Homo sapiens: one gene and its partners. The protein of the gene in region 1 binds, or shares a complex with, the protein of each later gene. Each region holds a gene or a part of one and is shown on either strand. Other genes may lie near its edges.

Evidence for each region. Proteins that work in one complex are often made in the same cells at the same time.
Region 2: LIN54 (region 1) and E2F4 share a complex: the UniProt entries of both Homo sapiens proteins name them as parts of the DREAM complex.
Region 3: LIN54 (region 1) and TFDP1 share a complex: the UniProt entries of both Homo sapiens proteins name them as parts of the DREAM complex.

Annotation. Positions count from the first base shown.
Region 1 is NC_000004.12:83,007,452-83,015,921, forward strand, and holds the start of LIN54 (protein lin-54 homolog), read right to left. Parts: upstream 3,373-8,470; 5' UTR 3,033-3,372; intron 1-3,032. UniProt on the Homo sapiens protein: Component of the DREAM complex, a multiprotein complex that can both act as a transcription activator or repressor depending on the context. In G0 phase, the complex binds to more than 800 promoters and is required for repression of E2F target genes.
Region 2 is NC_000016.10:67,186,986-67,195,449, reverse strand, and holds the start of E2F4 (transcription factor E2F4), read right to left. Parts: upstream 3,296-8,464; 5' UTR 3,223-3,295; coding exon 3,088-3,222; intron 2,690-3,087; coding exon 2,580-2,689; intron 2,442-2,579; coding exon 2,280-2,441; intron 1,979-2,279; coding exon 1,935-1,978; intron 1,053-1,934; coding exon 991-1,052; intron 765-990; coding exon 470-764; intron 1-469. Other genes in the region: EXOC3L1 (exocyst complex component 3-like protein), read left to right, coding at 5,774-5,819, 6,270-6,430, 6,510-6,729, 7,613-8,225, 8,312-8,429. UniProt on the Homo sapiens protein: Transcription activator that binds DNA cooperatively with DP proteins through the E2 recognition site, 5'-TTTC[CG]CGC-3' found in the promoter region of a number of genes whose products are involved in cell cycle regulation or in DNA replication.
Region 3 is NC_000013.11:113,636,300-113,642,268, reverse strand, and holds the end of TFDP1 (transcription factor Dp-1), read right to left. Parts: intron 5,736-5,969; coding exon 5,569-5,735; intron 4,650-5,568; coding exon of another isoform or gene 4,452-4,649; coding exon 4,373-4,451; intron 2,150-4,372; coding exon 2,002-2,149; 3' UTR 796-2,001; downstream 1-795. UniProt on the Homo sapiens protein: Can stimulate E2F-dependent transcription.

The DNA of each region.
Region 1 (8,470 bases):
CAATAATAACATCTCTGAGCTTCATTTACTTATAGGGTTACTGTGAAGATAGTTATGAGGTATGCTGTAACTCAAAGTTATTTTCCTGTTTATCTAAATTAGCTTCTCCTCCTGATTTCTCTGTGGTTTTACGGCATCCGATAGTCTACTAAATGGCCAGGCGTGGTGGCTAACGCCTGTAACCTCAACACTTTGGGAGGGTGAGGCAGGTAGATCGCCTGAGCTCAGGAGTTTGAGACCAGCCTGGCCAACATGGTGAAACCCTGTCTCTACCAAAAATACAAAAAATTAACCGAGCGTGGGGGCCCAAGCCTGTGGTCCCAGCTACTCACCAGGCTAAGGTGGGATTATCACTTGAGCCTGGGAGGCGGAGGTTGCAGTGAGCTGAGATCCACTGCACCCTAACCTGGGTGACAGAGTGAGAACCCATCTCATTTAAAAAAAAAAAAATTCTATCAAACACCAGGGCTTACAATTGTATTATCTTTGACATCTCTCTTTCCATAGAAATATTAATCTGTCATATATCATGCAGATTACACCTTCACCATGACTCTATCCTCCTGTAACCAATTGTGTCTAAATCTCCAACTCCTGAAGCCTACTATGGTGTTTTTACCTCCATCTCCCCTTACCTACAATGCATTCTACATAAAAGCTACATGTACAAGATTTATCTTCTGAAGTATATCTCTGAGATTGTCATTATCCTACACTAAGTTACATTTTCTGTAACTCTTAAGGCCTTCTGCAGCAAGACCCCACTGAATTGATCCTTCCAACTTCACCTCCAGTGATTCTTAAATTGAAAGTTCCCTGAAGTAATGATATTGAGGTTATTTTATCCACTATCCCTAGCATACTATATGACACCTAATAGACACCCAATAATAATGTTTGAAAAAGTAGTGAAAATCGGCCGGGCGCAGTGGCTCACGCCTGTAATCCCAGCACTTTGGGAGGCCGAGGTGGGTGGATCACGAGGTCAGGAGATGGAGACCTTCCTGGCTAACATGGTGAAACCCCGTCTCTACTAAAAATACAAATAAAATTAGCCCGGCGTGGTGGCGGGCGCCTGTAGTCCCAGCTACTCAGGGGGCTGAGGCAGGAGAATGGCGTGAACCCAGGACGCGGAGCTTGCAGGGAGCCAAGATCGCGCCACTGCACTCTAGCCTGCGCCACTGCACTCTAGCCTGGGCGACAGAGTGAAACTCTGCCTTGGAAAAAAATAAAGAAAAAGTAGTGAAAATCTATAATACTCTTCCCCCAAAAAATGAACACTGGACTATCTCTGGTGGTATAATTCTTGCTTCATTTCTAACACACTTTTAATTATTAATACACAATTGTTCTAACCAGGACAATCTGAAAACTGGTCTTTAAAGACAATCACAAAGAATCACAAAGAGACAATAGCCCTCTGTGATTAAAAGAAAGCCAATGAAAAAGCTTTTTAATCTCCCTATTTTAATTATTTTTAAAATTCTTAGTCTTACTACTGAGTCAGCAGCTATAAGGCATGGGTCAAATAACTGCAACATAAAAACTGTAATTTTAAAAAGACAAAACCAAATACCTACTGAATAATACAGCATCAGACAAATTATTTTTAAAAAATAATCATTATCGTCATCATTAAACCTTCTGAGTACCTCTAAGGTATTTCTCCTAAAAATTTTTTTGGGTCTCTTATTCTTCTAGTAAGTGAAAGCCAGACCTACAAACTATACACACCTATTCACACAAAATATTTCCCCTCTAAGTAAACTACAAAATTTGTGATATATGACACACTATGGCACAGTGTGTTACATATACTCTTTGTAGACAATTTGAATAAGGAAATAATATCACATATACTCTCTGTAGACAATTTGAATACGGAAATTTAGGGCTAATCATAAACATTACCCATGGGCATTCCTCAATACTAATCCTTCTGTTCATTATACACTCAATGTCATTGACCCAAAAAAGCTGGGGGAAAAGCATAGGGTCCAAATTAATGTATAAAAATTTTTTTGCCCAGCCTAAAAATTTGATTCACATGTAACTTTTCTGTAACACTAGTGTTGTGTGCAAGGAGACAGACTCCTTACGGATCTTTCAGCATAACCTAAAACTTAACATGGGTCTTCAGATAACCTAATAAAACAGTGGCTGTTATAGTCAATCAATCCAGCTCTCTAAACAAAGGGCTAGGCTAATCACTCCAGCATTTAGTGATTTAGAAATAACAGAGGTCTCAATTTATTTTTCCCAACTTAATGTACTCACAACAAATGCTTGCATCACCCCATCGCAACTCTCCTTCTTAACAATGAAGGTAAAACTCAGGACCAAAAGAGAGCTCCTAGAGCTGTATTTCATTTGCATTATAAAATCTACAGCAAAATTTTTCATAACTTTACTCTCTGAATTCATGAACTAGGTTGGCGGGGGCAGGAGGGTGAGTATAGAGAAGAACTTCCCTGAAAAGCATGAGTATAAAATATAACTGAGAGTATCTCAATTGTTATATGCCAAATGGCAGGGGCAAAGAGGTTAGTTACTCTAAGGATAACAGAGCATTAAAAATTTTTTTTCTAATTCTTACAAAACTGGTCCCTATTCTATAAAATGTGAACATCCACAACCCAACAAGTTACAGACTAGGATCTAAGACACAGATCTTAAATGCAGATAAAATGCCAATGCTCTGCCTCCCTAAAGAAACGTACAACCCCAAGAACTGCTGAACACCATCAAAGCAACACCCGCCAGAGTGGCTGTTTTAAACATTATATCAGGAAATCATGATAAGTGCTAGCGGTTCCTCTAGGCCTCAGCAGCAGCCTTAGGTATAAGAGCAAACTGGAGCCCTCTTAACACTCAAAGAATAATGTTGATGTCATGACGAGGCTACTGATTCTTCGCACTCCGGACAAGTCATTCCTTGATCCACCGCGCAATTCTTTCCCCACCCACCCCCATCCCCCCAAATAAAGAGATCTCCGGACAGAGAAGCCCTCGGGTACCCCATCCTCCTCTACCTCCAGCGGCTGCCGCTTTCTCCTCCCTCGGGCTCCGAGGTAGGGGCTCCAGAAGGTCCTGGGCAATCCCGAGCCCCGGCGGGGCTTGTTTTGCCCGTGCACGATAGCTCTGGCCAGCAGCTTCCTTTCCCAGTTTGTCCAAACTGGAGCGCTCCAGGGTACCCGGGGACCGAGAAGGGAGCCGGGGTGGCGACGTCGCCGTCGCCGCCGCCTCTGGTATGTCAGGGGCCGGGATTGTATTTCGAAAGATCCGCCATTTTCACCTCGTCATCACCATCACAGCTCAGCAGCTTCCCCGACAGCCGGAGCCCGGGCCGCCGCCGCCGCCGCCACCACCAGTAACCTCCCCCTTCCTCCTCCTCCCCTCCCCGCCCGCCCCACCCGGGAGGCGCACACCCACATATCCGGGGAAGCCTCCCGCCGCCCCGCCAACCTTCAAACGCACAAGGGCCGTGCAAGTGCACACGGGCTACGCCGAGACCTTTCACCCCCGGGCGGAGCACGGGCCCCCGCAGGGACGCCAAAGGAAGTCGCGCCACCTGCGGGGTCCCAAGTCCGGCATATTTTTGTTTGCAAGACCAAAAGCCATGCGGAGGGTGGCATAAGGACAATAAAGAACCCAAACTCTTTCATTTTCAGAGCAGCAACTTGAGAGAGATGGTGGAATGCGTTTCATTCACTGTGGCTATCTCAGGCACTAAAAACACTGTGAAAGACCTTTAATGTCATTCACCAACTTTGACATTTTACCCCACCCGCAGAACTACTTTGACAGGATGAGCTATTTCCATATGCATGTTCGACCTTTGACACCTTTGTCAATTACAGGCAGCAATCCTCATGCAGATGAAGTGGTCAAAATATCTAATTTAAAAAAATAAAGTTCTGAGCTATCTTCCTCTCCAACTTAATTTATCTGGTCATTTCTGTCCATGAACACTGCGACTTCCAATCTGTCATCGGTTTAAGACGTCAAAGCGCAACTAGATTTGAAATGATTGAACTAATTGTAGAAACATTCATGAATGATCGATTTCTAAAATATTGAAAATATAACTCTTAGCTAAAATTATTTGCCAAATGTTTTTTTAGGATCTAAGTCATCAAATTAAAAAAAAACCATCTGCTGCTGATATATTTGTTCTGTACAGTAAAAATAAACAGCTTGCTTCAGAACAAGATCCTAGAGCTACCTACTAGGTAGGTAAGAGTTACCAGCTCTTGTCATCAGTCAGTTGAATAAGTAACCAAAAGAGAACAGAGGTAATTCTTAATCATTTAAAAAATAACAAAACATAAGCTGCAAGGCTTCTGAAGAGATCAGCATTAAAAAAAAAAAAAAAGGAAACTGGCTGCCTTTGTCAATTTTAGAAAGAGTTAACCATCCAAAAGCTGAATTCTGTATCATTCAACCACAACATAAGCTCTGGGCAAACTGAATTTCAAGGCTGCGAACAGGGCCACTCTACTGTCTAAGTTAGTGTAGGAAGAGTAAGGTTGAAGTTGAAGTTGAAAAAGTCATTTCATTTCCCTACCTTGTTTCAATGGCAACTCCATATAAAAGTCGGTAGATTCAGCCTTCAACAAGGGCTGTCCACCACCCACCCCAATTGCTGTTTTTATATGCAGACTACCAGATGCTGAGAGTATAAAGTGTTCTCAATTACTTCATCTTTAAACTTCATTTCCCCACTGACGGCCCCGTCCATCCGCACTCTGCTTGGTTGTTTACCGTTGCTGGCCAAGCTAAGTCCCGGCCCGCTCCCTTCCCCCGTGCACCTCGGGAACATTATGACATTTGGCTGGTGGGCTTCGCGAGGAAAACGGACACGCACGAACAAGAGCCTGTACAAAGGGGCATAGGAAGAACGCGGCGGCGGGCAGTAGGGAGAGGAGGGACTGGCACAAAATGACACAGCAGCAAAACCGGTTCCCAGAAACCTGGGGCCGCCACGGGTGGCTTGTTGGGTCGCGCAGTGTGCGTGTCAACAGCCGCAGGAGCCCTTACTCCAGACCGCCGGGCAGGCGGCTGGCCGAGCGCTGGCCCTGCCGGGTGACAGCCACCCTCTCGGGAGCCGACGGGAAGAGACCGAGCCCCAAGGATCCTTCGCCCCCCGCAACCCAGCTTCAGGGAAGGGGCGCGGCGGACCCCGCTGGCGGGTTCCCGCTCCCCGCCAAGGCCCACCGGCCCGGGCTCCCGGAGGGAGCGGTCCAGCGCTCTCCGCCCGCGCAGGCACTCGCAGCGGGGGCCGGTTCCCCCTTCCCGCCAGCCCGCCCAGGAGCCCCCATCCCGGGGGCTGACACTCACCAAAGCCGGCGGCGCCGCCGCCTCCTGGTCGCGCGGCGCTCCCTGGGCTCCCAGCAGCAGCGGCGGCGGCGGCGCCTCCGAGACACAGACCAGGGTTTGTTCAAAATCACGCGCCCAGCCCCATTCCACCGCCGCATCCCATAATACGCTGGGCCCTCCCCGCCCGCGCGCCCCTCTCTGCCCGCCCCTGCGCTCCGCACCCCGCCCCACGGCCGGCTTCCTTCGCTCCGCCTCTTCCGCGGCGCCTCGTCCCTCCCCTTGGCAACCCAAGCCCGCGTCATTCCGCCGGGCTCCGCCAGGGCGCTCCAGTTCCACGTGACGCCGAGTGGCGCCCGGTCAAAGCGATCGCACGGAATGTTCCATCGGACTGAAGCTGATGGGGGGAGGACCCGCATCGCGCTGCGGTTGGGAGAGACCGTCCCTTCGTCTAGCTTTCCTTGTTAGGAAGTCCGGGTTGTAGGTGCGACTTCCAGGATATCCCGCTGTTTGATGTGCTTGAGTGAGGAGGTGATCAGTAGTCACAAATGCCAAGTCACTGTGTTTTTAGGCACTAGTTTTGCAGTGTCGCTAAAAAGCCACAGGGAGATTCATTGAGAGTTAAACTTATTTTGAAAGACGTTTTGCATTTCTTGCAACACGCAGCTAAGACTAACACAGTCAAAATTATTTGTATTTAATCACCTTTTATTTTTTCCCGCGATTTATATGATATCCAAATACGGAGTCGGATGAACAGACGCTGACAGATCATTCTGAGGGGAAAAAAAAATTATTCTGAGAGATTATTATCAACTGCTGTGAGTGCGACAAGCACTACATATACGAAAATAGAAAATACAAGAGTGTAAATGTAAGATGGTGCGATACAGTGTATAATTTGCTAATGGAGTACGGAGGACATACAGGTCAGCATGAGAGACTACCTCGGGAACATAATGGAGGAGGTGAAACAGTGTAGGGGAGGCAGCAGTCACTTTGGAATCAAGCAGTACTGGTATTTAATGGCACCTCCGTTTATTAGTGTATATTGTATAACGTTTATTTTCCTATCCAGCAAATAAAAATAACAAAACTTCCCAGGATTCTGATGGTTAAATAAAATGAAGGGTGTTAAGCAGGTACACAGTCTCTGCCTGAAATGTTAGTTCCCTTGTGCCATAATCAACACCCAGTACCAGCCCAAACACTAATAGTCAGGATTTAACAAGGCAAATGTCATGAAATTAGCAAAGCCTTGAAAATGGGAAGGTCTGTGACATGTGTAAGTAATGTGATAAAGTTGAATGACACAAAGGCTTTGTTGGAGATCAGCATTGTGAGCCCACTTTATGAGGAACCTTGAGAGCTAGTGTGAGAAATCCTCATGGTAAAATGATTGATGGTGCTGTTGGGGCACCACTGGAAGGAAGAAAAGAATGAGATGGGGTACCCAAAACTGGCTAGATTTTAGAGAGACCAAAATATCTCAAAAAAAGGAGACCCTTTCCCAGTTTATTCCACAAGGCAGCATAACTCTTATACTAAAACCCAAGACAAACAGTACCCAAAAAAGAGAAGGGAAACTTCCTTTCTTGCTATGATTTTGTTATGAAGGCAAAATTGAGTATTTAGTTGTTATTGGTGCTGTGGCTCACACCTGTAATCGCAGGACTTTGGAAGACTGAGGCAGGAGGATGGGTTGAGACCAGGAGTTTGAGACCAGCCTGGGCAACATAGTGAGATTTCATCTCTACAAAAAAAATTTTTTTAAATAAAAAGAATTAAGAAGTTATCAGACCGGGCGCAGTGGCTCACACCTGTAATCCTGGCACTTTGCGGGGCTGAGGGAGGTGGATCACCTGAGGTCAGGAGTTTGAGACTAGCCTGGCCAACATGGTGAAACACTGTCTCTACTAAAAATACAAAAATTAGCCGGGCGTGGTGGCATGCGCCTGTAGTCCCAGCTACCCAGGAGGCTGAGGCAGGAGAATCACTTGAACCCGGGAGGCAGAGTTTGCAATGAGCCGAGGTCATACTACCGCACTCCAGCCTGGGCAACAGAGTGAGACTCTTTAAAAAAAAAAAAAAAAGATGTTATCAAATTCCAGCAATGTGGTAGTAAAAAGAATTTACATCATGACAAAGTATATGGTTTAACCGAAACAGTGATTTAACATTAAGAAATCTACTAGTGTAATTTATTAGATTGAAGGAGAAAAACCAAATGATAGTCTCTAGAGATACATTGTATAACATTCAATAACCACCCTGAATTTTTTAAATTCTTAGTAAACTAGAAATAAAAGAATGTTTCCTTAATTGGATCAAGATAATCATCAGAGAACAACACCATACATTTCAGTGAAATGGCAGAGGCTTTCACCTTAAAATCAGAAACTCAATAAGGAGGCAGGGATATAGTAGCTGTTTACCGTTTTTGAGTGTGTCCTAGCTAAGTTAAATAAGAAAAAATGAAAGAAGAGGTATAATATAAAGGAAGAAGGAGACTAAATGGTCCTTATTAAAAATAATCAGGCCAGGCACAGTGGCTCATGCCTGTAATCCCAGCCCTTTGGGAGGCCGAAGCAGGTGGATCACAAGGTCAGGGGTTCGAGACCAGCCTGACCAACATAGTGAAACCCCGTCTCTACTAAAAATACAAAAATTAGCTGGGCGTGGTGGCGGGCACCTGTAATCCCAGCTACTCAGGAGGCTGAGGCAGGAGAATTGCTTGAACCCAGGAGGCGGAGGTTGCAGTGAGCCGAGATCGCGCCACTGCACTCTAGCCTGGGCGACAGAGCGAGACTCCCGTCTCAAAACAATAAACAATAAAAAAAAATAATAATCATAGGGGCCAGGCGCGGTGGCTCACACCTGTAATCCCAACACTTTCAGAGGCCGAGGCAGGTGGGTCACGAGGTCAGGAGTTCAAGACCAGCCTGGCCAACATGGTGAAACCCCATCTCCACTAAAAATATAAAAATTAGCCAGGTGTGGTGGCCGGCGCCTATAATCCCAGCTACTCGGGAGGCTGAAGCAGGAGAATAGCTTGAATCCGGGAGGCAGAGGTTGCAGTGAGCTAAGATCACACCATTGCACTCCAGCCTGGGACAGAGCAAGATTCTGTCTAAAAATAAAAATAAAAATAAAT
Region 2 (8,464 bases), on another chromosome or scaffold:
GTTAAAAAGGGCCCATTCAGGCAGGCATGGTGGTTCAAGCCTGTAATCCCAGCACTACAGGAGGCCGAGGCAGGCAGATCATTTGAGGTCAGGAGTTCGAAACCAGCCTGGCCAACATGGTGAAACCCCATCTCTATTAGAAGTACGAGAATTAGCTGCGCATGGTGGGCGCCTGTAATCCCAGCTACTCAGGAGGCTAAGGCAGGAAAATTTCTTGAGCTTGGGAGGCAGAGGTTGCAGTGAGCCAAGATCGCGCCATTGCACACTCCAGCCTGGGGGACACAGTGAGACTCCGTCTCAAAAACAAAAACAAAAAAGGCTCATTCATTACCATAGCAAGGGAAGGCTAGGTGGTCAGGAAAAGGACAATCCCCAACCTGAAGAGTCTCTTCCAACTCTGAGCATGGTGTTCCACAACACAGAGATACTACCTCTTGGGCCTCTGTCACAAGCTCCCATGGTGCCTCACCTGTGATCTCAGCTGCTGGGCCAGCCATTCCCTGGACTTCTGCACTGCCAGGGACAGCAGTGGGAGTGAGCTGAGGACTATTTGGACGTGAGGCTTCCTGGGACTGGGCTAGGGCAGGCTTGGGCAGAGGTGGAGGTGTAGAAACAGCAGATGGGCTCTGGAGCAAATCTTCAGGTGGTGGCACAGGCACAGCCACAGGGGGTGAGCTCCATGCCTCCTTGTTCACCAGCAGAACCTCAATGGGACCACTCACACTCTTCAGGTGAATCTGGTACTTCTTCTGCCCATTGAGACCCTAGAGATGGGTGGTAAGGGATGGGAGATGGGTAGAATTGTAAGCAGGCTTGGCTCCTGCCCGACTCCGGGTCAGGACCACAGTGTCCTCTCCCACCCAGGATGCCCATCCTCCTAGATAACCCCAAACTCCAGGCCTCCCCCTACTTGCCCCACCCAGGACTTATCAGGCTCCACAGCCAGCACCCGCCCTCAGCTGACCCCGCCTGCCTGGGCTAAGCACCCACCTCTGGGATGGGCACCTCCAGGCTGGTGCCTGATGGGGCCCGGATGGCCAAGAGGGTATCTCCTAGAATGACATGGAGAATGGGTCAGAGCCCATGGGCTCAATCTGAGCTGGGAACAGAGGTGCCTGCCTTTTGGAGCAAGGCAGGAGATCACGGTCCCTGAGGAACTAGACAGTGGGCCTCACCCATCCCCCATAGTGGCCAGGCAGAGCTAAAGCTCTTCTCTTCCTGAGAGCCCAGGGTCAGTAACCAGGAAATCTGGGTTCAATTATGTGGAGTGAAAGATCACTGGCCACAGGCACCTCATTCCTCTACCGATGGCTGATCCCTAGGTGAGGGTGTTCTAGCCAAGGCCAACATCCCTTTCCCATGACCAGTCAGGAGCATACAAGATGGAGAAGAAACACATCAGCGGGGCACAGTGGCTCACACCCATAATCCCAGCACTTTAGGGGGTTGAGGAGGGAAGACAGCTTGAGCTCAGGAGTTCAAGACCAGCCTGGGCAACACAGCAAGAGCCCATCTCTTAAAAAGAAAAAAAAAGGAACAGATCCTGTATTCACAATGCAACTAAACTAACAAGTTGGAAGTGGGCACCCCCATGCCCTGCATGTAAGAGCCTGCACACAAGCAAATACACACATATCCTCTCTCCCTCTCTCCCCCTTGTGCCTCTATCATACCCAAGAAGCCAAATCCAGGAAACAGTAGAGATGGGAACAGACCCAGGGACCCACTCCAGAATTTCTGTACCCTTTTGGTATAGCTGACCTCCACAGGGTCCCAGTGACACTCAGACAGAAGACTTACCCTGCCTGGTTCCTCTCTGAGCAGGCCCCAGAAACCCTCTTAAGAGACAGAACTCTCCTAAGACACTGAGCCCAGTGCTCAGGACTTTGGCTGAGCCCAGCCCACCCCCTTACCCCTACCCAGGCTCTGCTCACCAGCAAAGCATCTGCAGATGTCCTCATGAGTGACGTAGGCCAAAGTGTGAGGGTTAAGGAGAATGGCTGATGCCCTATGGTGACAGATGGCAGACTACAGAAAAGACCCAATTCTTTAGCTAAGGTCTGACACACAGGCCCTCAGAGACCGTTCTGGGGACTCAGGTCCACCGGGGGAGGGATCACAGGCTAAGAGTGGAAGGGGAGGGGCTCTGAGGAGGGAGCCTGAGGCTGGGCCATGGCCAGTGGCTATAAGACAAACTCCCAAGAGGAACAGGACTCAGGGCAAGTTGAACCAGAGGGCCCCTTGCCCACTCCCCCCAGCAGGGACCGCCAGGAGGATATCAGCTGTTCTGCACGTCCTCTGTGACGTTCCGGATGCTCTGCTGCACCCACACCTTGTGCTGGTCTAGTTCTTGCTCCCGCTGCTGCAGCTCCTCGATCTCTGCCTTGAGCTCAATCAGTTTGTCAGCAATCTCCCGGGTATTGCAGCCAGGCCCCACACCCCTGAGCCCAGGGAGTGGGGCTGAGAGGGACTGCTGAGAACTCTGGGTCCCATGGCCCCTGCCTTCTTCGGCACCCTCCACCCCACGCCCGACACTTCTGGGTGGGAGACTCTACTACCCTCCCACTATGCCCACTCACTTCCACTGGATGCTGTTCTTGGACTTTTTCTCGATTAGCCCGATACCTTCCAAAACATTGGTAATGTCGTAAATCCGCCGCTTCTGGCGTACAGCTAGGGTGTCAGCTGCCTGGCAGAGAGAATGGAGAATGCTCAGCCCCACTCTGGGGTGTACCCCCAGCCACCCTGAGACGTGGTCTGGGAAGGGAGTAATCTGGATTCCAACCCTGTAGTGCCTCCCAGGCGCTACTGCAGCTCAGGACCGCAGCTCTGTCCCATAGGCAGCTCTTCTCCTCGCCAGCCAGGAAGGGCCACGAGGACGAACACCTGCAGCCCGAGCCTGGCCCATAGCTGTAGCTCGATGGCCTCGGCCGAATGAATGAAACATCCCCCGGCTTCTCTCCTGTGAGAAAGCACACGATGGCGGCCGGCTCTCGGAGGACCCAGCTGGGCCGCCCCCGGGGTTCCCGCTACCGGCCCAGGCCTGGTCCACCAGCCTCCCTTGTCTCCCCTTAGCCCAGGCCGCACCAGCTTGAGGTCAAGCACGCCGTCCTTGGCCTCCTGCAGAAGGGACACGAACTTGGTGGTGAGCAGTCCCAGGCTCTTTTCGTGCCGGCTTGGAGTGCCCGGGGGCGGCGGCGCCTGTGGCCCGGCCTCCGCCATCGCGCCCGCCCGCCGCCTCCCCTCAGCCAGGCCAGGCCAGGCCGGCGCCGCCGCCACTTCCGCTTCCGTTCCTGGCCGCCGGGCAGCCGGAGCCAGCGTTACTGCTTCCGCTTCCGTCCCGTGCGCCTTCCAGGGAACGTGGCGCTATTGCTGTCTGTGGGTGCAGCCGCAAAACTTCAGGGACCAGTAGCAAATGTCCAGCCTCCGAATAAGACGAAAACTACCTGGGTAGACCGGGGAGTTGGGATGAAGTTGGGGAGGAATGAGAAGGGCGTCAGTGGGCCGCCCTGGCAGTAGAGAAGGGGACGCCATCGGAACTTTCCTTGCCAATCTGCCCCAACATCACTAACTCTGCCTAGTCCCCATCTTGGGAGAGGAGACCACACTACCTGACTAATCCAATCTGCTCCCTCAAACCTGTTCCTTTTCCATTTTTTTCTCTTTATTTATTCTTTTATATATTTCAAACTCATTTTACTGCCACATCAAACCTGTTCCTAAAGGCTGCCCTACTGTCTTGGGGTCACCCCATCTATTCCTATCCCTCACTTCCTGCCAAACAGCAAGCACTAACTATATCTACCTTGTCCACCTTGTTCCACCCATGGTCCTAGCCTCATCTTTCGCTCGTCTTGTCCTCACAGTACAGTGCTCAGAGACTATGGGGTTATGAACACTTCAGCCAATGCAAACGTGTTTACCTATGTGTAAATATCAGTAAAGCACTCAGTCATTCCTGGCATGCAGGAATGTGTGATACGGTCATTTTGTAACTTTTAACATTGTTACTATTTATTATTGTTTCTTTTAGATCAGGTCCTCTGGGAAATGGGACTCGAGATAGGGTTTTGCAGCAAGTTTGTTGGGGATCCACACTTTTTTTTTTTGAGACAGGGTCTCACTCTGTTGCCCAGGCCGGAGTGCAGTGGCAAGATCAATGCCGTCTCAGCTTCCTGGGCCCAAGCGATTCTCCCACCTCAGCCTCCCAAGTAGCTGGGACCACAGGCATGCACCACCATGCCCGGCTCATTTATTTTTAGTTTTTTAGAGATGTGGGTCTCACTATATTGCCCAGGCTAGTCTTGAACTCGTGGGCTCAAGAGATCCTCCCACCTCAGCCTCCCAGAATGCTGGGATGACCGGTGTGAGCCACCGCACCTGGTCAGGATCCACACCTTTAAGGGATTAAGACAAGCAGAATTGAGCAGATGCAATTATATTATAGGCCTCAGCCTATCCCACTAGGATCTCTGAAATTGGGGTAGCACTTCTGAAGGGTTCATGTTCACACGATGGTACCATGCTTTTGCACCCCAATATTGACTGAGAGACTCAGTGGTGTGATCTCAGTAGCCTACACTCCTGGCAGCTGGAGAATGAGCACTTCTGTCCTGAAGGGTGGATTTGGGTGGTGGACTGAACATCCACTAAATAATTACCACCTTATAGTCCCTTCCCTGGCTCCCTATAACTCTCAAGATAAACACAGCTGCCCAGTTGCGGTGACTCACGCCTGTAATCTCCCAACACTTTGGGAGGCTGAGGCAGGCAGATCGCTTGAGCCCAGAAGGCTGCAGTGAGCTATGGTGGTGCCACTGTACTCCAGCCTTGGTGACAGATCAAGACCCTGTCTAAAACAAAAAAGATAAACACAGCTTTCATGACCCTCTCCTACCACCCCCCACCACACCCCTCTTCACAAGAGCCTGCCACCTCTCACTCCTCCGCAGAGGTACACATCCTCCTCAGAGGCTGGCCAACACAGTTTTCATCCTGTGCTGTTGATGTCGTCTGCATCCATATCTGCACACTCTGCCCACCACCCCAGGTTGAGGCCAAGTCTAGCAAATCCCTATCTCCTCTCCTGAGCACTAAGAGGTTCTGGGTAGGCTGGTCAAGACTGGTTGAGTACAAGTACACCCCACCCCCCCGCCCCTCAGGGAAGTGTCGCCCAGCTGTCCCCACCCTCTGTGCAGACACTCTTTCCTGTTGGGAATAAAATGCCAGAGACTCAGCTTCCTTCCTTTCTGTTGATGGCCTTGGGGAGGGAGGAGCCTCGGTGGGAAGAAGGGGCTTCTGGGTGGGGAGTGGGAGAGAGACTTCCTTGGGGAGAGGAATTCAGCTGCACGCTGGAGTCAGCTGGAGTTGCCCAGGCCCTGTGAGCAAGTGGCAGGCGTGCCCAGCTGCATTGGGGAGAGGGCTGTTCTCAAGGCCAAGGTCATTTTTGGAGGGAGAACTGGACGCCTGATCAAATCTGGTAAGTTCTGTACCAAACTGTCCTGTGCAGCTCAGAGCAGGACCAGGGTCCAGTGGAGGCCTGTGCCCACTCTGTCTCGCTTGACATCTGCAGGGGCACGACTGGGAAACCTAGCAGGCAAAGCCTCCCAGGTGCCCTCCGCATCACACCCGCTCCCTCTCACTTCCCGAGGGGGCCGGGAAGAACCTCCTTCCTCCTCTCAGAAGGGCTTAGACAGAGGCAGCAGCTCACAGGGGCATCTACTCTGCCTGCTTGCCCCGGGCCCACCTCAGCTCTGGCTCCTCCAGGCCCACAATGGACTCAGCAGCCAAGGATGAGATGCAGCCGGCGTTGTCCCCTGGTATGAACCTTTTGGGTGGACTAGGGGAGGAATGATGGCAACAAAGATGGGACTGGCTGGGCGCAGTGGCTCACGCCTGTAATCCCAACACTTTGGGAGGTCAAGATGGGCAGATGACCTGAGGTCAGGAGCTCCAAACCAACCTGGCCAACATAGTGAAACCCCGTCTCTACTAAAAATACAAAAACTAGCTGGGCGTGATGGCACGCGCCTGTAATCCCAGCTCCTCGGGAGACTGAGGCAGGAGAATCGCTTGAACCCGGGAGGCGGAGGTTACAGGGACCCGAGATTGCACCACTGCACTCCAGCCTGGGCAACAGAGCGAGACTCCATCTCAATAAACAAATAAACAAACAAATAAATAAATAAATAAATAAATAAGAAAGCTGGGACTGGGGTCGTTGGGCCCTCCTCCCTGACTACACGGCTGCCCAGGCTCTTCCTTCCCAGGACCTGAGTGGCCAGAGCAGGAGCGGGCAGAGCAGCTGGCCCGGGGTGCAGCGCTCAAGTGGGCCTCAGGCATCTTCTACCGGCCGGAGCAGCTGGCCAGGCTAGGCCAGTACCGCAGCCGCGAGGTGCAGCGTACCTGCTCCCTGGAATCGCGCCTCAAGGTGGGCATGGGGCAGGGGGTGCGGGTGCTGGGACTGTGCTGCAGGGCTGGCCCAGCCTCATGGCTCCATCTTTCCACAGTCAGTGATGCAGTCATACCTGGAAGGCGTGCAGACTGGTGTGTGGCAGCTGGCCCAGGCCATTGAGGTGGTGCAGGGAACCCGGGAGGCCCTGAGCCAGGCCCGTGGGTTGCTCCAGGGCATGTCCCAGGCCTTACAGACTCTAGAGCCCCTACGGGAGCGGGTTGCCCAGCACAAGCAACTGCAGGCCCTGTCTCACCTGCTGCCTCGGCTGCGGGCAGGTGAGCATGCAGGGACCCTGGGCCTCAGCCTCCAATAGTCAGTCCACAAACACCCATCCCTAATCAAGGGGCTGGGGCACTAGATGGGGAACTGCATAGAGCAGCACACCAGGGACCTCCCAGACAGTAGCCCGGGCTTCCCATGGCCTATGAGGCAGCTCATCCTGGGATTCCCACGTGTGGGATGCTTGAGTCAGGACAGACACCCAGTCATGTGACTCTGGCCACCTGGTTATCAGTATATTCAAACTCTTCCCTAACAGAGTGGCTGAGCGAGTACTGGCAGGACCCCCCGATTTCCCCTGCCTTCCCTCCAGGATCCTCAGCTTCCTCATATTCCATGAGTTCATGGGTTGACCTCTGGCCCACCAGGTCTTTAGGACATTGCCAAGATCCTCTTAGATTGGCCAGTACTCTACTGGTTATTTATTTATTTATTTATGGTTTTTTGTTCATTTTTTGTTTTGTTTTGTTTTTGAAACAGAGTCTCACTCTGTCACCCAGGCTGGAGTGCAGTGGTGTGATCTCGGCTCACTGCAACCTCCATATCCCAGGTTCAAGCAATCCTCCTGCCTCAGCCTCCCCAGTAGCTGGGATTACAGGCATGTGCCACCATGCCTGGCTAATTTTTGTATTTTTAGTAGAGATGGGATTTCACCATGTTGGCCGGGCTGGTCTCAAACTCCTGACCTCAAGTGATTCACCCACGTTGGCCTCCCGAAGTGCTGGGATTACAGGCATGAGCCACTGTGCCCAGCTTACTCTACTGGTTGTTAAATATTTTATGCATCACCCCCGCCCTGGGCCTCAGTATCCCCTGCTGTACACATTGAGGCGGTGGGAAGGCTGAGACCCAGGGCCGTCTCCTTTTCACTCTCATTAGTGCCGGCTGCAGTGTCCCACACACAGACTCTGATTGATGGCCAACAGTTCTTGGAGGCATATGTGAGCCTTCGGGAGCTGGAGCAGCTGCGAGAGGATACGTGGGCACCCCTGGGGGGCCTGGAGTTGCCAGTCTTCCAGGGGCTGGACCTTCTGTTCGAGGCACTGGGCCAGGCTGTGGAAGCAGCTGCAGGGGCCGCAGGGAAGCTGGCACGGGAGGACCCAGCCCTGTTGGTGGCTGCTGTGCGTGTGGCGGAGGTGGAGACTGGACGAACAACCCCCCTGGGCCAGGTCCCCCGGGACTGGCGTCAGCGCTGTCTGAGGGCACTACAGGAGGGCCTGGAGCAGGCCCACTTTGGGTCACCTCTGCTGCCTGCACCAGGGGCCCTACCAGGGTGGCTGGAGGCTCTGCGAGTGGCCCTGCCAGTCGAGTTGGCCACAGCTGAGGCACTAGTAGCGCCTTGCTGCCCGCCACAGTACAACGTGGTCCAGCTATGGGCCCACACGCTGCATAGTGGTTTGCGCCGCAGCCTGCAGAACCTCCTTGCAGGGCCTGAGCTAGAAGCTGCGGATGCCTTCGCCTTGCTGCACTGGGCACTGCATGTGTACCTGGGGTCAGTGCCTTTGGGGCAGCGGGACATGGGGGATCAGAGGCTGGGGGCTTGGTGGCTTGGTGTGACACCAGGCCACCTATCTCCAGGCAGGAAATGATGGGGAGCCTGGAGTTGGGGCCTGAGGCTGATGTGTCCCAGCTGGAGCCCCTTCTGACCTTGGAGAACATTGAGCAGCTGGAGGCAACATTTGTGGCCAACATCCAGGTGAGTAGTTGAGGCACAGGTCCAGAGAAGTCCTA
Region 3 (5,969 bases), on another chromosome or scaffold:
TCTGAAAAGAAGTCTCCTGTTCCCCCGGATTTGCCATTTTTGTTATTGCTGTGTTTATTGCTTTTTTGACAGCTCTAGGCTGTACCTGTGCCATGGTTCAGCCTGAGGTGTAAACGTAAGGTCTTCTCGGGTCTTTTCTGAGCCTCTCCCTGGGCAGCCCCATATATACAACACAGTTGTTTTTATACGTCCTAGTCTTCAATGTCTGGCTCCCAAAAGGGGAAAGAGAAAAATGAAGGAACAGAGGTCGGGGTAGAAAGCTGAAATGGACCAAAATTAACTGCAATGTGCTGACCAAGCCTCCCTTGAAAGCTTTAAGCCTTCAGTAGATTCCGTAGTTACAGAACAGCTGCATCAGGCAGATCCTGCCCGCGAGGTAGACATCTACCTGGGCAGCCAGATTCCTGGTGCTCCCTATTCCACCATCTTCCCAGAATCCTCTCAATCTTATTCTTGTTCTCAAAGTCAAACTTTTAAATTTTGTCTCAATTTTCATTGTGAAAAAAGGCCAAGGAACTTGGCTTATCTTTCTCTGCACCACAGGCACCGAAAAGGAAGGTGCCTCTTTGCCCTGTGTCCACCAAGACCTCCACCCTTGGCCACCTTCCACCTTTTCAGGGTGGGCTCCCGGAGGATGTGCCTCAGACAACATGTGGTGGTGGGGTTTGCACCCACAGGGACCACCCGGGCCCACCGCGTCTGGGCCTAACAACCTACTTTCTCACTCAAGTATAAAGTAAAACCAACAAGACAGACAAATTTCTAGATAATAATCCTGAATTAGAGAAACACAGCTTGTTTAAAATGCCCATGCGCGTTTTATTAATAAAAACTAACAGTGCCAAGTTAAACAAGTCAAACAATTAAAGTCTCTTTATATACCATAAAATATTACAGAAAAGTTTATTTGTGTTTCAATAAAAAGACTATCGTTTTAGAACAGGCAGCTAATAGCAACTGTGCAGTTAATGGGTTTTGTGAATAAATTTTAAAAGAGACTACTGCCTGTCCTTAAATTCCTTTTTCTTTTTATAAAAAAAGAACTATTAAAAATGATTGACAAATTTTGAGTTAAAAAATTGTTAAAACATTCTCTATATTTAATTTCAATTTTATAATAGATTACAGGAAGATGCTTATGAAACAAATACATTTGTTTCAGTACATGTCTTTAAATGATAGACTTATAAGTATGTAAACAACTATATAATAAAAGGTTTCCAAACGCTGCCTGTAAGAAATCAGGCAAATTTTACCATAAGCAATAAACCATTCCAAGCCTTCCAGACAGTCTCCATAGCCGCACCAGCATGGCAATAAGCTTTAACCAAACGAAAACAAACAAACAAAAGCACTTCGCAATTTGTTGCTGCAAAACAGGGAGAGAAAAGAGTGTACAAACTTGATGGAATCACAACAGTCAATATAATTTAAGGGACAATAAAGTCAATAAGGTTGATGGTGTTTATTGTTTAAAAAGTTGAATTCTGCTGTTTGCTTGGGGCTGTTTAGAAAGTTGCATTCTGCTGTTTGCTTGGACACCGTACCACTGAACAAACTCCACAGAGTCTTGCTATCCGCCAGCAGGGGTGCCGTCCAAACTCACGGCAAATAAGCGGCATCAGGGGCTCACCATCCACAACAGGAGGTGTTTTATTTTCATGGATGTGGTTGAAATACAATTTCTTCAGCAAACTCAGCAAAAACTTTTCAGGGGCAAAAATGAACTCTGCACTTAAAGAAAAATAGCAAATGAAAACACAAAATCCTAACAAGTAAATAAACGCTCTGCATCAGCACACTGGTATCAAAACACACATCCACAGCACGTCCTAATCCTACGGGAAACAATCCTTGCTTATCAGAGGTGCATATCTAAATTCAATAGCTTACCAATATCTTCTTGGGAGTAGGCCAAAAGGAAACAGAAAACCCACATTAAAAAAAAAGTTTCTTTTCGCTAAACGTTTTCCTGAAGCCGAATCTGAAGTGGGGAGGACGTCAGTCGTCCTCGTCATTCTCGTTGAAGTCATCGTCCTCCTCGTCGTCCTCCCCGACGTAGGACACCGGAGTCTCCACCCTGGAGCCGCTGTACTGAGACCCATTGGAGCTTGTGGCCAGCATCCCATCTGCACCGTTGGTCAGGTCACTGCAAGGCAGGAGGCGGATGGCGCCGTCAGTGCAGGCGGCCCACCCAGCCTCCCCCCGCCTCAGGGCTTGTGGTCAAATGACAGGCTGTGCCCCACAGGTGTGGGTTTTGTCAGTCACACAAACAGAACGGGGAGGCTGAGTGTCTGCACTACAGCACGCCAACGCTCTGGCACTTACTCCATCTCTGTCTGGTTCTCTTCTGGCCCTGTCTCCTGGAACCCATAACGACAGAAACAGGAGGCTGAGCAGAGCCACACGCTGCCTCTCCCTCACTCATCATTCCATCAGGAGCAGTGCCCCAGAGGGAACAAACTGTAAAACCATTAGATCCCTCCCTCCGGGACTTTCACTCATAACCAGCAACAGGAAAAAAGAGAGCCCGGGGCAGGACAGGATGGAGTCCAGAGCGTGGGTCGAATCTGGCAGCGGGGACTGAGAACCCAGAGGGCTGGCAGCACCACAAAAACCTACCACCAACCAGAGCTCACTACGTTCCTAATGTTTAAAGATGTTTTCAATTAACATAAAACCATATGTACATATTTTAATACATTTTAATGGTATTTATTAACACTACAATAAAAATGTGTTAATGTGCCTTTTGATGAAGTAATTCTGTATCTTGGAAACAAGTCAGAAATGGCGAGAAATTCAGCTGTAAAGCTGCTCACTGCAGTTTTTATTCTAACTGGGAACTACCTAGATGTCCTTTCATGAGGTACTTGTATAAAATGTCTCATCATGCCACTATGAAAATCGGTATTTCGTAAGAAATGGTAATAGCTTTGTTTCCATTGTTATGAAAAACTGACAAGTCTGAAGAATCACATCCATAAAAAGGATTATGTGATGATAAAAGTCCTAAAAATACCCACATCCCACCTCATGGAAGAAGCAGCATTAAACATGTTTACAGACTGACCGCCACACGTTCACACATAGCTACAACAGAAGGAGAACCGGCCTCTGTCAAAAGCTTGTCACCAAAGTCCTTTCTTCCATCACCACCTCACTGATCCTTGCCACAGATCAGTAACTCATCAATCACCAGTCTCACCTTACAGGTGAGGAGGCCAAGGCTGGCTTTGCACTTCCAGAGCTGGCCAGGAAGCTACACGTGCCCGACACACCTGTTACATCTCATGGCCACAGCACATCCCAACGCAGGCTCAAGCACACTGAAACTCACTATGTCGAGCCCTGTTACCCGGACCCATAGGTTACTGAGTTCTTGTATTTCTAATTAAAGATTTTATTAACACTTAAGATTAATATAAAGTAATACTATATATTGTATCACAATGCAATATAAAAGTTAATAAAATCATTGTTTTGTTAATATTTACCATAAAAGTTATATTTATCTTTGAAGCACTAAGATCAATACCTAGGGACACCATTCTACTCTGTGGGATTGCAGGTCAAAGATTAAATACAAATTTATTTAAATAAAGGCCCTTTAATAGCATAGAAACAATATATATTCATACAATAAAATGTAAGCTGAAAAATGCACGGAACAAAATATGTGTGCTGTGACCACAGACGCGTTCTGAAAAATACGTGCGCTGTGATTGCAGACGCGTTCTGAAAAATACGTGTACCATAATCACAGACGCGTTCGCAAAAATACATGCACTGTGATCGCAGCACGTGCGCCGAGACCGCAGACGCGTTCTGAAAAACACGTGCGCCGTGATGGCAGACGTTCTGAAAAATACATGCGCTATGACCATAGATGCATTCTGAAAAACACATGCACCATGACCGCAGATGCGTTCTGAAAAATGTGTGCTGTGATCGCAGACACGTTCTGAAAACTACTTGCGCCCAGACCGCAGACGCGTTCTGAAAAATACGTGCGCTGTGACCGCAGACGCGTTCTGAAAAATGGGAAAAAAAACCTGGAAATACTTGCTGTTACTTGGGCTGCCGGGGACAGGAGGATTTGGGTGGTTTTCATTCCTACTTTACTTATTAGGTGATACTATGAAAAAAAAACCACCATGTATTACTTTCAGTTTTTAGTGAGCAGAAACCAACTAAGAAAAGCAGCTCTCCACACAGGGAAAGCCAGCGGGGCCCCACTGCCTGGACAGACAAGCCACGTCAGAGCAGCCACAGACCTGATGGCCACACCTGAGACGGCTGCCCTGCCTTGGCCCCTGGACCCCGGGGGAGGCCCAGATGACGCCTCTCCCACACCCTCAACGACTGTCACCTGGCAGAGAACCTTGTGCCGTTAGACGTGGAACCTGCCGTCGTGATGAACACGCCTCCAACAGTTCCCTGAGCCATTTCTGAAAAGGGAAAGAAAATAAGCGAATGGTCATGAAACAGAAACAACACAAGACGCACAGGCAACCAACAAAATGACGCGCAGTTCCACAGGACAGACGGCTGTAGAAGCTTCCGGATATCCTTCGCTTGTCCAGTATTTTCCACACTGCGCCACGGAGCAGGACATCCCGCTGTGCAGTCACATAAGCCTGTCTTCTCTAAAAAGGCAAGAACAGCCTTGCAATAAATACCTGCACACACTGACTTACAAACGGCACACGTGTGCTGCTGCCTCAGTATCATACCCATCGTGAAACGGAACCGAATCAAAGTGTCAAGCTGAAACCCTCTTCCCACAGCCCATCCTGGCAGCTCCATGAAGCACGGGACAGAGGCCGGGGTCAGGGCCCAGCCCACGTGGGCGGCCAGAGCCCACTGTCACCTGACAACATGGACCAGCCAGATTTTCACAAGATCTGGGGCAGTCTAAGAGCTCAGGGAGGAATCTCTGACCCTCTCAGGGAATAAATCTACACCCCAAGTTTAGGCTAACAAGAGAAGGATCAGCAGATATGACACCTTCACAATTTCTCACCTTAAAGCCATCCTGCTGTCAGTGGCTGGGACCCTACGGCCCCCAAGGAAAGAATTCACCAGAACAGAAAAAAAGCTCCTTCAACAAAAGCTCCTGTGCTCCCGGCCCTCCGGAGCAGGACGCCAATGACTCTGAAATGCTTTTTCTTGGTGACTTTGCCCTAGTGACCAATCAGCTACCATCAGTGGGTGGGATCAGCAATCCAACTGCACTTCTCAAAGAATCTCAACTTCTACTTCTGGGCCTACTTGGAGGGTAAAATCCTGACTTAGCACCTCCTCACACAAACCACATAGGAAATCCACACGAGCCACCTGTGGACTCAAGGCCCCCATATCCAGTGGGTCACGGCACTGGCTGGACCCCACCCCAGCCACACCCCTGCCCTCATCCCCCTCACAGCCCCTTTGTCTTTGCTCCTGGCCCTACACACGTGGGCCTGATCTCAGCAAGACACATCCCGAGCCGGGAGGGGAGGGCACCGTCGGAGGCTGGGGGCCATTCCTCACACAGCCACGCCAGGTTGTCTGGGCATTGCTGACCTGTCACGTATGGCTCCAGAGCCTTGGGGACCAGACTTCTGGCCATTTTAAGGTCTTCGGCAGAGCAGCTCCCCGACTCCAGCCCGCAAGCCATGCCCATCCGCTTCAGCACTTCTATGTCATCGTGGATTTCAAATGTGTTGTCAAAATTAAACAGATACTCAAATCTGAAGGGGAAAGGCACAGTCAGAAAGACAGGGTCTCCCAGCGGAGACGGTACACACTGGGGTGGAGCCAGGACGGCTGACCCGCTGACCGCCACACACAGCTTCCCGGTTCCCAGTCATCAGTGTCTCCTCACAGAATTTATAAACTCTGAAGTAAATGAGATGAGAGGCAAATCGAGGCCTATTCTCCCCAGGAGGACATGCCCTAAGGCACACGCTCCCGGAACAGAGACC